Regions from separate parts of the Homo sapiens genome. Here region 2 is linked to region 1. Evidence: fine-mapped expression QTL. Tissue or cell type: whole blood. Region 1 holds a variant in brackets; the other region holds the start of a gene. All regions are shown on one strand. Distances are between the middles of the regions.

Region 1 (8,108 bases):
ATCTTTCTCTAAAAGCAGCTGAGGTTGAGGCAGAAGGGAAGGGATGGGTTAAAGGGGGGCAAAGGGGAAGGAAATTGGCTACATGTATTTTTAGTTTTGAATGACTAGTTTGTATTCAATCAAATAAATTTCAAATGTTTTGTTCGCCCGAAGCTATATATCAAATAGCAAGGTCCTTATTGCTGACACCATGTATTTCAACTTCAGGGATTCTTCACTCAGTAGCCACAACCACGTTGCTTTTCTGCTGGGCTGTGGGGCTTGCTGCTCCATTGTCATGAGAGCATCCCTTCCTGTTCCTGCCCAGAGGAGACTGAGTCACATGAGTGACAACCAAAGAATCATTTGGGTGGCTTATTTCAATTCTACCTCTGGCCACTCAGACTCATTAGCAGGTAGGTCAGTGGGGGACCCTTAATTCACTCGCCCTTACCCCCACTGCACCTTCTGGAGAAAGTACAGCCCTGCCAACACCTTGACTTCAGGTTATACATTTCTGTCCTCTCATGACTGTGAGAGACTAAATTGTTTTAAGCCACCCAGTTCATAACAAATTACCCCAAACTTGGTGGCTTGAAACTACAGAAATCTACTCTCTTATTTCTGGAGACCAGAAGTCTGAAATTAAGATGTTATCAGGGTTGGTTCCTTCTGGAGGTTTTGAGGAGAACCTGTCCATGCCTCTCTCCTAGCTTTTAGTGGCCTCTGGCAATCCCTGGCAACCCCTGGCTTGTAGATGTATCTCTCCAATTTCTGTCTCCATCTTCACATGGCCTTTCTTTCTCGGTTTCTCCTCTGTGTTTCTTCTTTACTTATAAGGATGCTCGTTACTGGATTTAGGGCTCACCCAGTAAGTGCAGGATGATCTCATCTCTTGAATCTTAATTTAATTACATCTACAAAGCATTTTTGTCTAAATAAGGTCACATTTATAGGTATATAGGGTGAGGATAGTGCCTGCCCTTAGGGGCAGGCACAGTTAAACCCACTACAACCTTGTTTAATCCATTATCCCATTTCAAAGAGAGATCTGGAGTAGAATGTGATAGTGGGTTAGCTCTGTAACCAGGAATTGGATGAGTGAGTGGTGATAAATCCAGACCTAAGCTGAATTTTCTAGCTACCTGGTCTTGAGAGCTAGGACAAGAGAAAATCAGAGAAAGGTATTTGCTGCATTCTGAAATGCTTATATTTCTTAAGTGATCCAAGGTGGGTGTACTTTAGATGCAGGAATGGCCATAGTAGTGTCTGGATCTGATGAACTAGCTCTTAGGAGAAAGAACAATAAGCTATATTTCAAGATATAAGTCCCAGTCTTTTCCAAGATATCACCAATTTGGGTAAAAATTCAGTTATACTTCCTTCTCACACAGGCAACAGGTATAATAATATCTGCTCTAATGTGTATTGAGATAATATGTCAGAAATTATTTAATAAACAGTAAAGCCACGTAAGTTTAAGTCTCTGTGACGATTAGGCAGGCATTAGACTTGAAACCATATTTGAAATGATACAGTCAGTTCTCATTATTTGTGGTAGTTATGGTCTATAAAGATGCTGCAAATATTGAATTAGCAAATACTGAAGCATTGCCTTTAGGAGTAACACAGTGTTAAATTCATATTATCTTCTGGTCACAACATTTTCATCAAAGTCAGTAAATAAACTTGCTTTATGTGTGTTTCTGTTAAAAATACAGCTTATTTAATATATATTGTTGATTCCTTAACATTGAACTCACAGCCCAAAATGCCATAACTCCTGTCTGAAAAGCTTATCTAATACATATGTTTTCTTTATAAGGCATATTGCAGCCATCTTTTGGTAGGGAACACTCGACAGAACCTCAGTTTTATGCATGGGACCCATTTAAGCACTTAAGCAGAAAAATCACCACCAACAACAAAAAAGAAAAATGTGGAAAATGTACTAACTATATAAACAGAATCTGATTATATAGCATTCTAGAAGATGCAAAACCATAAAGATAGTAAAAAGATCAGTGATTTTTTTTTTTTTTTGCTGGGGTTCAGGGGAGAGGGGAGGGATATGAGGGATACATAGGTGAAGCACAGATTTCTAGGGTGATATAACTATTCTGTATGATAAAACCCATAGAACTTTACAGCACAGAGTGAATCAATGAATACACATTAAAATATCATTTAGGAGGTCAAGGGGTCAAAGGAAAGAATTCAAACTGTGACAAGAAAATCTAACTATTATATTATGTATAACTGTACTATAAGCATATAAAACGTCACTGAAGGAGGTAAGAAACAACAGGGTGACTGAAATAACTTTGGGAATGAATGGAATATATAAGACTAAAAGCAGGGAAATTGCACATAGGCACTGTATTCTAGTTGATAAAATTATTTCCCATTGAGGTAGAGGTTAACAATTCTGACACTGCTATATATGTATACTTGGATTAAGCAATTAAGTGAATGTGTGAGGGATGGCAGGCATCACGCTTCCAACTGTTTGGAGTTGGAATTTACAGATAAGCAAGGCATATATACATATGTGTACATATACATATGTGGGTAAATATACACACAAATATTTCTTTGCCCTGTCAGCTGAGGGGGCCTAAAAGAAACAACACGCCACCAGCAATGAGCATATCTAGTGCCTAGATCTTGGTTTCTAATGCCATTCTTCATTAAAAGTCACCAGGTGTTTCACGGTGAGCAGGTCAATGCAAACCTACCCCAACCTACCCCCAAAGACCAAAGAAGCTGAGAGGCCAAAGAAAGAGGCTGACAAATACGGTTTCTCAGAAAGAAACATTTAATAGGAACTTACAAACAGAAGCAATGTTTCTAGCAGCCACTAAATGGCGGCACTCACCCTCCCAAAAGTACCCTTTATATAACAAGCATTTTTGGCAAAACGTGTAGCTAGTCATATCTCAGACTTTCTTGTGAAACACCTGAACACTGGGGAGGTTAGATAAGCATCTTTATGAGGGGTTATCTGTACTACCGGCACTGTTTAAAGACATTGCTGCAGAATATCTTGGTATGCAGGAGTCAAACAGCAGTCATCATGCCAGCTGCTCTTCAAGATGACATCACTCTTACAATGCAACAGGCTGTTTTCCTACACTCGACCCCTCGAAACCAGTCCTTAAAATCTTACATGCCTGCTTCTTCTGTGATAGTCCCTGGACCTAGAGGGAGGGTGCTTGATATTGTATGGCTTTAGTAGTATTGCAATGGAAATGGAAAACAGATTGGGTCCAGTGGAATTCCACAAGAGGGAGATTTGCAGGCTTGGTTGAATCATCTATATAGTCTTCATAATACCATGAAGAAGTAAAACAATGAGAAATACATAACATTAATAATTGGAGTAGTAGAAATCTAAATAAAGTAATATGATGTTTAAGATATCCCTTGCCTTAATAGCCTATAAATATGGGAAGAGTGACTATCATCTTCTGAATTTCAAGACCCATATATTCCGACAGTTTCAGTAATATGAAGATTTTGGAAATTCTAAAAGGTTTTGAGATCATTTCTAATCAAGCATTTAGCTCTTATGTTAGCATTAATTGCAGCCCCAACTTTTGCAACTTATTGACCTGCACATTTTTCTGAGCACTTACTTTCCTTATGTCAGATGTAGGGAATCATGAGATGAACAAGTTTTGGTTCCTGCACTGTAGCAAATGAATTTAGGCAAAGATATGAAAGATGAAAAAACCCTATGACTATATGACTTTTAGTGTCATGAAACTGATTACTATATAATCTTGTTATTCTTCCCATTGCTTGACTTTAAAATAGGGCAAGTTAGCCAGGTGCAGTGGCTCAAACTTGTAATCCCAGCACTTTGGAAGGCCGAGGCAGGTGGATCACGAGGTCAGGAGTTCGAGACCCGCCTGACCAACATGGTGAAACCCTGTCTCTACTAAAAATACAAAAAAAAAAAAAA[AAAT/T]TTAGCTGGGTGTGGTGGCGTTTGCCTGTAATCCCAGCTGCTCAGGAGACTGAGGCATAAGAATCGCTTGAACCTGGGAGGTGGAAGTTGCAGTGAGCTGAGATCGCACCACTGTACTCCAGCCCAGGCGACAGAGTGAGACTCAGTCTCAAAAAAAAAAAAAAAATTTGGGCAAGTTATAGTCCATCTCATAGTGTTGTTAGGACTAATTTCTTCATGTGCTTAGAAAAATGCCTGGCAGATAGGAAATGGTCAATATTATTATTATTGATAAGATGACCATTTTGGAGTTTAGAAAACCATTTTCAATGCCTATGAAATAACAACTCCATAAGCCATTCCCTTAAATCCAGTAGACTGAATTCTCACAAGTCCTCATCACTCATCATTTCTACATCCTGCTGATTTACAAATACTTCTTCATACCATGGTTTATGTCTTTGCTTAATATCAAGGAGGATGGATTCCATGGTAGAGCCAAACTCAATGATACTACGAGTCTCATTTTGGTAAGTATAAGCAAAGCCAGCAGCATGCATGGCCACCAATGAACCTTTTGAATCAAACACAGGGGAGCCGGAAGCCCCAAAGAAAAATTCAGTGTCATAGGTAATCACATCAGGGTTGTGAACTATTTTCTGGAAACTTCTTTGAGTATACATATGGACATACTCTGGACTTTCTGCTTTTTTAGACTGAACACGTTCCTGACATTTCTTTGCTCGCTGACCCTGAGGGATCACAGCACAAGCATCAATCTGCTTTTTTTCTCCATATGGATGGCCAATAATATGTATCAACCCACTAAGTGGCACAGGAGTAATTCCATTATATAGTTCCATAGGTACTTGTTGTCCATTTTCCTTCAGTTTCAGGACAGCATAGTCAAGCTCTTCATTATGTATCTCAAACCAAGGTTCAACAAAAAAGTAGTTTGTTTCCTTGTCTTTTAGCTCTTCATAACCAAATGTCACCCTTACACATTGACCAATTATGGTTGCCCACTTACTTGGCTCTATTCCGTCTCCCACAATGCTATCTATTACATGCCGACAAGTTAAAATGAACAATCCTTTAAAAACAAAGCAGGTGGCGTAACCCGTAGTTGCACTGTCCCAGAATAAGTACCCAACTGAGTCACTGAGACGTACAAGAAGTTTCACTACTTTAATCGAAGAAGAATTTTTTGTTACTTTCCCAAACGTTGTTCTATGCAATTCAAATAATGTTTCCCCATTTTTTACTTTCATTTTTTTCTTGAAGTTTTCAATGATTTTTTCACTTTCTCTTTTCAAACTGGGGTACTGAGCCACGATTTGTTCTCTCAACACACAGGTGTTTCTTTTCTCTGACTCAGGATTCTGAGAAGCTGCTGCACTGGGGACCATTCTTTTCTCAACCTCAACCTGAAAGTATCTGCCTTCTAATTCATCAACTGGCTGGGTGCTTTCTAAAATGGTGTCATTGTTTTCAATGAGTTTCCAATCATCATTCTCCAGAAAGGAAAGAAATCTGCCATCCTTGCACAGTGCATCCTTGATGGTTTCTCCTTTGAAAGCATAAACACAGAGTTTGCGCCCCTTTTTGTGAAGCTTCCCACATTTAACAATCCTTCTTTTACACTTCCCAATTCCAATTGCATGAATGTAAAATTTGACACATTCAGTCGATGCTTTGTCCTGCCTGCCAAATATGTGGTTATCTTCCTTCTGCTTACTTTTACTTTGGGAAAATGTAATGACCACCTGGCCACCTTCAGGGAAACAACTGAGGGGCATTCCAAGGTTTATGTACTCTTTGATTCCTTCTGTGCCACGCACAAGCATTTCTTGGCCTTGGTGAGTTTCTATCTCTTTTCTGACAGCCTGGAGAGTGTTGAGAGCCATATATAAGCTACTATTCTCACTATGTGTGAGCTTAAGTTTCATATCTTGGTTTCTCCTGTGGTTTACCTTCAAGGTAACATATATTGTCCTATTTTGGGGCATGGTCTGGTCTTCTGGATTTTTCTTAGGTGAATGGAATCTTTGAGCCTGGGTATTAGTTGTGGCTCTTGGGTCTCCTCTAGACTCCATCCTCATTAGAGAAGTACTGCAATTATTCTGTTGCTCTTTAGAGACCTAAAAATAAATGTTAGATACTTTAAAACTCTGAATGCAACCCGAGTCTTTTGTTTCTCTTTTCAGGTATGCAATTCACAAAATTCCTATGAGAAACTGAGAACCAATCTAAAAGGGCCAGTGAATAATATTAAATCAGTGTTTGACATGGGATCCAAAATGAAAGCGGAGCTTCCTATAACCTCTGTCAGATAAACTCTTGGTACCACTACACTAGTGCATTCTTCTGAAAAATATGAGGGAAGAAAAAATTTTTTCCCAGGTGCCTCAAAAACAGAGATTCTTAAAAGTTCACTAGTGGCCGGGCATGGTGGCTCCCACCTGCAATTCCAGCACTTTGGGAGGCCAAGGCGGGTGGATCACCTGAGGTCAGGAGTTTGAGACCAGCATGATCAACATGGTGAAATCCCGTCTCTACTGAAAATACAAAAATTAGCTGGGTGTGGTGGCACATGCCTGTAATCTCAGCTACTTGGGAGGCTGAGGCTGGAGAAATGCTTGAACCTGGGAGGTGGAGGTTGCAGTGAGCGGAGATAGCACCATTGCACTCCAGCCTGGGCAACAAGAGTGAAACTCCATCTCAAAAAAAAAAAGTCCACTAGTATTTGAAATAGTTTTATTTCAGGACTTGTTTATTATCTTCAGCTATATAATTTTTATATTTCCTGAGGACAATAATGAATTACAGCAAAAAAAAATTGTTCTTGAAATACTGAATTCAGCGATAAGCTACCGCAATTTATTATAAGCATTACATATTAAACAAAATCATTATTTAACTAATCATTTGGTTATAATGTAGTTATTTGTAACAATAAATACTTTGATTTGCCCAGCATATATCATGAAAAGAACTCTATTTTCTCTATTACATCAACTAATCCCCAAAGTTTATAAAATAAGGAGGAACAAACATGACTTATCTATCCTTTTGATGGAGAAACTAAGGCACAGAAAGTTTTTCTTGTAGACGTCTTTTCTAGGGTCACATAATAACCAATAAATAAAGTGAGTATCAAAATTGCAATTCCCAGTCCAATTATATTTTCCACTGGACTAGTGTATACATTCTTTTTTGTAAACTTTATATTTATGATTGCCATTTTTGTAGCGCATTATCTTAAGAAACGGGGGTGGAGGTGGGGAGAGGAATTAAATAAAGAGGCTTAATCAAATAGTAGAAACTCAGTGAAAAATTAGAGTGTCTGTTTCCTATGTCTAAAAAACACATTTTTCCCAAGTCATATTCATCATGGCATGGGTACCAGCAGATATGGGTCCGTATGCCAGCAATGCCCCTTACTACTACTGGGAATAACAATGCTAGGAATATTGTAAAGATTAAGTGTAGCATCATTGTATGACAATGCCTAGCACAATGACTAGCACATAATATGTTAACATTTGTTTTCCTTCTTTATACTAATATTCCAGATCAAAAATAAATAAATAAAAGGGACTTAAGGTAATGCAGATTTACCCTGGGCTCACATATAAACTCTCAAAGAGCATCCCTTCAGCCTAATGCTGTCAGAAACATCTTTGTCATGCACCCTATTAGAGTACTATAATAAATTTCCTATTTATTAAAATGATTCTTGGGCAGATATAGACACTTCTGAAAGGGGAAGAGGAATAGGATATAGTAATTAGCTCTGTCATGGAATAGGATAGAGAAAAACATAACTAAGTTTGCCTTAGACTTTTTAGATACTTGGATATTCTAGTTTTCCAGAACCAGGACAAAACAAAACAAGTTGAGAAATTGTAAGCTTCATACTCAAATGTTTACCATTCCTCAACTTTTTTCTTGATAAATTCAAGGAGAATTTTAGACTCAGGGAAAGATACAATGGTTTGATATGATAACAGAGCCCAATCAGTAGAAAAAGGCCCAACTACATGTCATTAAACTTAACTCCAAGTCTTCACTTCATTCCTGCCTTAAGCAACAACTCACTTTCTCCCTCTTCTCCAATAAACAAATTGAAGATTTGTCAGAATCCTTCCTGACTTCCTAACAAGGTTATGGTAAGAAC
Region 2 (8,108 bases), 60 kb before region 1:
GAGGGGAAGAAGCTGACAACGCAACTCTTAAAACGTCAGGCTAGGAATCAACTGTTCAGAAAGGAAAATACTGCCACTTTGTTCACTGATACTTTCCAGATTTTCCATAACAAAGTTTACTGCAAAGTCTTTAAAAGCCATAGTTCTCTGATCTACTTAGTAATTATTTAACCATCAGTTTTCACACTGGTTTCCTAGATTCCTGCTGAAAGGGAATTGTCCCAGCAAATGCAACTAGACTTTCCTCCCCATTTTAGACCACAGGTGAAATGCAGAAGTAGGAAACACCTGGATTAGTTCCAAGCCCACACAGAAGCGAACCTCAGATATGAATCACGGTTTGGCGCTGAATGAGATGGTGTCAGAAGGTTGCACGGGATCAAACAGAGAAAGAAAGCAGATGTGGGACTTCCTTCTTGCCTCTTTTTGGAGGAAGTGAAATCGCCGTTCAGCAACGCAGATGCAAAGTTTTTGTAGACAAGATGCCTCTTTCTTTTAGAGATCAGTGTTAGCCACAGGCCATTACTCCTCAAGTGTGGCCATCTGGGGAGGTTATGTGACTGCATATGCATTCCAGTACAAGAAAAAGCAAAGGAAATTTCTGGTGAACAGAATAAAACAGAAAAGTTGTGGGTAAAATGCACTGGTCACCACTTCCTCATATGTGACTGTTATGAGCAGTTCTTCTGCTCCTGGTATGTAAAATTAAGTTAAGCCAAATTTCCCATCATTTGCACTTCTCCTTTCACTGTTTCCCAGAGAACTGGAAAGAGAACTTCCTTGAGCACAGCAGTCACATAATCCATAGGCTTTGGGTCATTTCAGGAATATAAAAATTCCAGAACTAAGTTTTTTTGTTTGTTTGTTTGTTTGTGTTTTTGACAGTCTCACTCTGTCTCGCAGGCTGGAGTGCAGTGGCACGATCTCGGCTCACTGCAGCCTCGAACTCTTGGGTTCAAGCAATTCTCCTGCCTCAGCCTCCCAAGTAGCTGGGATTACAGTTGTGTGTCACCACTACATCTGGCTAATTTTTTTGTATTTTTAGTAGAGATGTGGTTTCTCCATGTTGGCCAGGCTGGTCTTGAACTCCCGGCCTCAAGTGATCCATCCACCTCGGATTCCCAAAGTGCTGGGATTACAGGCATGAGCCACCCTGCCTGGCCTGTTTCTTTTGTTTTTTTTTTACATGGTTGTGCATTGGTTATTTTCCTGAGCACAAAAGTGATGATTACCCAATACCCATCAGTGTTTGGTACTTAATAGGCTCTGAATACAAATTTCTCGAGTTAATAAATACATGCTCATTGTTGAAAACTCAAAAAACACAGAAAAGAGGAAAAAATTAAAATAATTTAGAAAAACCTCTCAACCAGATGTAATTACTGTCTATGCATTGGCGTACATCCCTCTAGTTATGTACATAGTTGGGGTCATGCTGAATGTTTATCATTCTTTTTTTTCATAACATTATTGTCAGAGATATTTGAACCAGAATAACTCCATCTCGAATAGGGGCTGGGTAAAAGAAGGCTGGGCTGCATTCCCAGAGGGTTAAGTATTCTAAGTCATGGGATGAGATAGAAGATTGGCATAAGATACAGATACAGATCACAAAGATCTTTCTGATAAAAGAGCATGCAGTAAAGAAGGCAGCCAAAACCCACCAAAACTAAGATGGCGACAAGAGTGAACTCTGGTCATCCTCATTGTTCATTATACACTAATTGTAGTGCATTCGCATGCTAAAAGATGTTTCCACCAGTGCCATGACTGCCAATTTCCAGAAGTTACCCTGTATAGTCTAAAAAGGAGAGGAACCCTTAGTTCTGGGAATTGCCCACCTCTTTCCCAGAAAACTCATGATTAATCCACCCCTTGTTTAGCATATAATTAAGAAATAATGATAAGTATCCTTAATCAAGCAGCACATACTTCTGCTCTGCCTATGGAGTAGCCATTCTTTTGTTTCTTTACTTCTCTAATAAACTTACTTTCACCTTACTCTGTGGACTTGCCCTGGTCCTTCTTGCACAAAGTCCAAGAACTCTCTCTTGAGGTCTGCATTGGGAACCCTTTCCAGTAACATTATGGCATAAGAATTTCTCATGTTATTAAAATAGTTTTAAATAATTGTGATGGCTATACAATATTTTGTCTTATGGGTACAATGTAATTTTACCGTTGTTGGCTCTTTCTGCTATTTTCAATTTTTTTTTCCTATGATAAAATGAAGACAAAGTCTATAGAATAAAAAATACAGTGACTAGACGTCTGGAGACATAGGAACACCTGAATATAGAATTGTCTGTATTAACCTTGCTTGTATTCTCATTTCAGGAGAGTGAGCTCTCAACAGGGTCTACTAAAGAGAAAGCAGAGGGTAACAAATTGTCAGCTTGTCTCCAAAGCAGTGTGAGAGTATTCTAATTTTGATGAACCATCCCAGAAATAGTTTGAAGAGAAGTATGTAGGTATTTCAACAGACTTATTGGAAGTACTCAAGGGCATTCAACTCTCATTTTTCTAATTCTGGGATCATGCTGCTGAGGTATAAATTTATGGCTAACTGATTTATAAATTAACTAGAACATCCTGTGCAAAGATTTGGTTCTTTAGCCAAATACAGACTAGGCACTGGTTCATAAATTAATCCCTCTTAGGTGGCTGGTGTCACTTCCCAGAAGCATGATAACTGTGGCACAAATAGAACCAGAATGGCCAGGTGTGGTGGTGCATGACTGCAGTCCCAGATTCCTGGGAAGCTGATGTGGGAGGATTGCTTGAATCCATGAGTTCTGGGCTGTAGTGTGCTATGCCAGTTGGGTGTCTGCACTAAGCTCAGCATCAATATGGTGGCCTCCTTGGAGCAAATCACCAGGTTGCCTAAGGAGGGCTAAACGGGTCCAGGTTGGAAATGGAGCAGGTCAAAACTCCTATGCTGATTAGTAGTGGGACCATGCCTGTGAATAGCTACTGCACTCAAGCCTGGGCAATAAGCAAGACCCTGTCTTGGAAAAAAAAATATACCCGGAATGCAGTATTTCTAGATTTATAGAACACCATCATGGTTTTGATAATAACTGGTGAAGCCCAGCCTGGGAAGCAAGATAACTAGCCTCATTCTTTCTAAAAACACTTCTTTGCTGCATTAATAACCAACAGAGGAATTCAACTCCTTGGAACCTTCCTTCCAGGATGCATACAGGTGATGGTGTAGTGATACCTGTGAATTGCAACATGACTTTTTCAGTCTCAGTACTGTATCTAGTTCATGGTATAATCTTGGGAATGTTAAGGATGCAACTGGGAGCTTCACTAAGTCCTCTGGATTCCCTGGCTACCACTAAGCATACTAAGACATAGCCTAATTGTCCCAAAGAATTAACAGAGTTGGGTTTCAATCAAACCTGTCACCATTGTTTTAAATTATGGGCTCTAATAGAGCTGGCATTGGAACTTGAAAAGAAACTCATGTAATTATATTCTTCTAATGATATAGCAAATGAATTTTTGCTTTTAGAAAAAATATTGGGTAGTGAAGAGCCACATTCTTTTTTATCCACCTAAACTGATTACACACACTTAGCAATGGAACAAAAAATTAAAGGTATAACAGGTACCAACTTCATACAAAATGCACACACACAGAGGATATATAAATGTGTGTACACATACACATATGTTCCTTGGCCCCTGTCTGCTGTTGATAAATCAAAATCTAGATAATAGTGTGGTTTTGTCTTGAACATTTCTATCTGAATGAAAACAACACAGTGTAGGAGTTCCTTGCCCTCGCTTTGAATGCTTAGGACAATGCAAATTGGGGTTTCCCAGCATATTGCAACCGAATCCTCTTCAGGCCCTGTCAGCTGTGCTCCAGACAATGCCATCCCCAAAGACAGAATTGCTATGGTTCATAACAGTGAAACCCACAGGACAAGTGTCCAAGAGTTTCACTCCTTTCTTTTGTGGAAACAGCCTCCACCCTCAGGCAAAGAGGAAACCCAGGGTTGGCCTTGACTAACAGCTTGCATAGGTATGGTGGAGCCAGGGTGTTTCAGTAAGGGTGGTGTGGTCATTTGCCTCTGCATTTATAGTAAAAGAAAACTGATAATGGAGTCCCAAGAGACAGCAGTCAGGGAAAATATGAAACATCAAGTCCAAGAGAATGAGCAAAAAGCAAAGCCAAACTTTCTGGTGGAGGAAGCAGTAGGGTGTGGGGTCGGGATTTTTTTCTAAGTGCACACCCCTGCAGCAGAGTAACCAGCCAGAGCTGGGGGAAAAATTAGGATAGCTACCTGTTAGGCATGTAGGGGTGTGTTTGCATGTTTAGTACGGCATAAATTCTTCAAAGACCTGATGGTCTTTAATATTCCAACCAACTCTCGTTTCCCCATTTTGTCATTAAATTAGCTTAAAGAGGAACTTGTAGCTTTTAGAGAACTCATGAGTTTTCCGCTTCATCATCTGCTTCTGTTTTCTCCATCTTAGTTTGCCCAAAGCTTGCTGGCCGCTGTGTAGGGCTGGTGAGTGGCTGGGGCTGTCTGAGCCATGAACAACTTCAGGGCCACCATCCTCTTCTGGGCAGCGGCAGCATGGGCTAAATCAGGCAAGCCTTCGGGAGAGATGGACGAAGTTGGAGTTCAAAAATGCAAGAATGCCTTGAAACTACCTGTCCTGGAAGTCCTACCTGGAGGGGGCTGGGACAATCTGCGGAATGTGGACATGGGACGAGTTATGGAATTGACTTACTCCAACTGCAGGACAACAGAGGATGGACAGTATATCATCCCTGATGAAATCTTCACCATTCCCCAGAAACAGAGCAACCTGGAGATGAACTCAGAAATCCTGGAATCCTGGGCAAATTACCAGAGTAGCACCTCCTACTCCATCAACACAGAACTCTCTCTTTTTTCCAAAGTCAATGGCAAGTTTTCCACTGAGTTCCAGAGGATGAAGACCCTCCAAGTGAAGGACCAAGCTATAACTACCCGAGTTCAGGTAAGAAACCTCGTCTACACAGTCAAAATCAACCCAACTTTAGAGCTAAGCTCAGGTTTTAGGAAGGAACTCCTTGACATCTCTGACCGTCTAGAGAACAACCAGACGAGGATGGCCACCTACCTGGCAGAACTCCTGGTGCTCAACTATGGCACCCACGTCACCACCAGTGTCGACGCTGGGGCTGCTCTTATTCAGGAGGACCACCTCAGGGCCTCCTTCCTCCAAGACAGCCAGAGCAGTCGTAGTGCCGTGACCGCCTCTGCTGGACTTGCCTTTCAAAACACCGTGAACTTCAAATTTGAGGAAAACTATACCTCGCAGAATGTCCTCACCAAGAGCTACCTCTCAAACCGAACCAACTCCAGGGTGCAGAGCATTGGAGGGGTTCCTTTTTACCCAGGCATCACCCTCCAGGCCTGGCAGCAGGGTATCACCAACCACCTGGTGGCCATCGACCGCTCTGGCCTGCCGCTGCATTTCTTCATCAACCCCAACATGCTACCTGACTTGCCAGGCCCCCTGGTGAAGAAGGTGTCAAAGACAGTGGAAACTGCTGTGAAGCGCTATTATACATTCAACACCTACCCTGGCTGCACAGATCTCAATTCTCCCAACTTCAATTTTCAGGCCAACACGGATGATGGCTCCTGCGAGGGGAAAATGACCAACTTCTCTTTCGGTGGGGTTTATCAGGAATGCACTCAGCTCTCAGGGAATAGGGATGTCCTCCTCTGCCAAAAGTTGGAGCAGAAGAATCCACTCACTGGTGATTTCTCCTGCCCCTCTGGCTACTCCCCGGTGCACCTGTTATCCCAGATCCACGAGGAGGGTTACAACCACCTGGAGTGTCATCGAAAGTGCACTCTCCTCGTCTTCTGCAAGACCGTGTGTGAAGATGTGTTCCAGGTGGCAAAAGCTGAATTTAGGGCTTTTTGGTGTGTGGCCAGCAGCCAAGTACCTGAAAACTCAGGACTGCTTTTTGGGGGCCTCTTCAGCAGCAAGAGCATAAACCCCATGACAAATGCACAGTCATGCCCAGCCGGCTACTTTCCACTGAGACTCTTTGAAAACCTCAAGGTATGTGTTTCTCAGGACTATGAGTTGGGAAGCAGGTTTGCGGTCCCCTTTGGCGGGTTCTTTAGCTGCACAGTTGGGAACCCCCTGGTAGATCCTGCTATATCCAGAGATTTAGGGGCACCGTCTCTGAAAAAGTGCCCCGGGGGCTTCAGCCAGCACCCAGCCCTCATCAGCGATGGATGCCAAGTGTCCTATTGCGTCAAATCCGGGCTCTTCACAGGAGGGTCCCTGCCCCCTGCCAGGCTCCCACCTTTCACCCGGCCACCCCTCATGAGTCAGGCTGCCACCAATACTGTCATAGTGACCAATTCTGAGAATGCGAGATCCTGGATTAAAGACTCCCAGACCCACCAGTGGAGGCTGGGAGAACCGATAGAGCTGCGGAGGGCCATGAATGTCATCCATGGGGATGGTGGTGGTCTGTCAGGAGGGGCTGCAGCTGGGGTCACAGTGGGGGTCACCACCATTCTGGCTGTTGTTATCACCTTGGCCATCTACGGCACCCGGAAGTTCAAGAAGAAAGCATATCAGGCAATTGAGGAAAGGCAGAGTTTGGTTCCAGGCACTGCAGCAACTGGAGACACCACTTACCAAGAGCAGGGGCAGAGTCCAGCTTAAATCTCTCCCCGAAAATGGTTTCTCTCATCTCCAGTGTGGTCATTGCTGACCACTCTGTTTTCCTAAGCATTGAAATGGCAAGTGCAACCAAAAGTAGGTATATTCGTGACTTCTTGTTTAGGTCTCTGGGCCAGGAAATTCATACTGTTACATGGATAAGGTTGGGATTGGGGAGAGGGAACAGTTGGGACTAGAAGCAAAAGTGATTCTGGGACTAAAATAGGAAGCAGATGTCCTTTCCCAATGTGTGTTGCTGTCTTCACCTGAATGCATTTGTGTAAAAATAGCGGAGGGACAATGTGAACATTTGTATTTGGAAGCTATGAATTTACTCTGAAGTTTGCAGTTGTTTCCAATTTGTGAGCTCTAAGAGTTTCTGCCTGTAAGAACTACTCTCCTTTTATTTTGATTTTTAAAAACCTGTCTGAATTTCACACTCTTAGAGCCTGGAAGAGCCCTGAAAAGACACAAGTCTTGCCTGGCTACTGCTTTTTAACTTTGAGGGCTCTATGTTGACAGACTGTTATCTCCTCTGGGTGACCTCAAACATCTGAAAAGAAAGATGTTGCCTGTGCCAATTCCACTTTTTCCAGCTGCCCCTTGATGAACACTCCCTTATACCAGACCACTCTTGGACTTCTGACTGGTGTCATCAAGTCCTCAGAAAATATTTTAAGTTATTTTAAGTTATTAAGGAAGGGATGATTTGGAGACAAGGAGTAATGAAAGATGGGTAAAAACTGGAAAAGATTCTGGTGCTAAGTACTACCCCTTCATCTTCCATGGATGGTCATTACCTTTCCTGTCCTCCTGTTATATGAACACACACACACACACACACACACACACACACACACACGCACACACATACCACATTTCAATAAGTCTTCATTGTTCTGGGTCCTTACCTTTCCTGTCCTCCTGTTATATGAACACACACACACACACACACACACACACACACGCACACCACATTTCAATGTCTGCATGGTTCTGGGGGTAACAAAGGCAAGAAGTTAAAGTAAGACCACATTTGAGTATTACTTACTCTGTAGAATCAAAACAGAGTAGTTAACACCAATTATGCAAACTACTTTTTTTTCCAGCAGAAAGGGAGCTGACATGATCAAATCCATGTTTTCAAATGAACTGAAAAAGGCATCCAGCACCACTTATAACACATTTATTTCAGTTCCAGGCTGACAGCCCTGGGGCATCTAGCAGGATGCATAATTGTCATCTGGTGAGAGTTGGGACTTTGCTCAATTTTAATACCAATCTCTCCTGATTGTAATTACCTCCACTACTTTCATGATCCCCCTACAATATTTTTTTAAATGATATATTTATTCACTGAATCAAATGTCATTAATGAGTTATCTTCTGTGGAGGATGACTGTTCTCTT

Evidence for each region. PIP is the estimated chance that this variant, and not a neighbour inherited with it, causes the effect.
Region 2: it holds the start of MPEG1, and the variant in region 1 is fine-mapped to the expression of MPEG1 in whole blood (INTERVAL, PIP above 0.99).

What each region holds. Positions count from the first base shown.
Region 1 is chr11:59,149,711-59,157,818 of GRCh38, reverse strand. FAM111A (FAM111 trypsin like peptidase A) reads right to left here. Exons shown (of 6, transcript NM_001312909.2): 6 at 2,780-6,069. The coding sequence ends at 4,315. Among named protein-coding and RNA genes, the nearest start is that of FAM111A, 11 kb to the right of the region's middle. RefSeq lists an enhancer at 5,107-5,236. The variant AAAT/T (reference allele first, on the strand shown) is at 3,947.
Region 2 is chr11:59,209,309-59,217,416 of GRCh38, reverse strand. MPEG1 (macrophage expressed 1) reads left to right here and starts at 4,490. Exons shown (of 1, transcript NM_001039396.2): 1 at 4,490-8,108. The coding sequence starts at 4,552. The coding sequence ends at 6,702. It also overlaps the pseudogene RN7SL42P. RefSeq lists an enhancer at 4,314-4,513.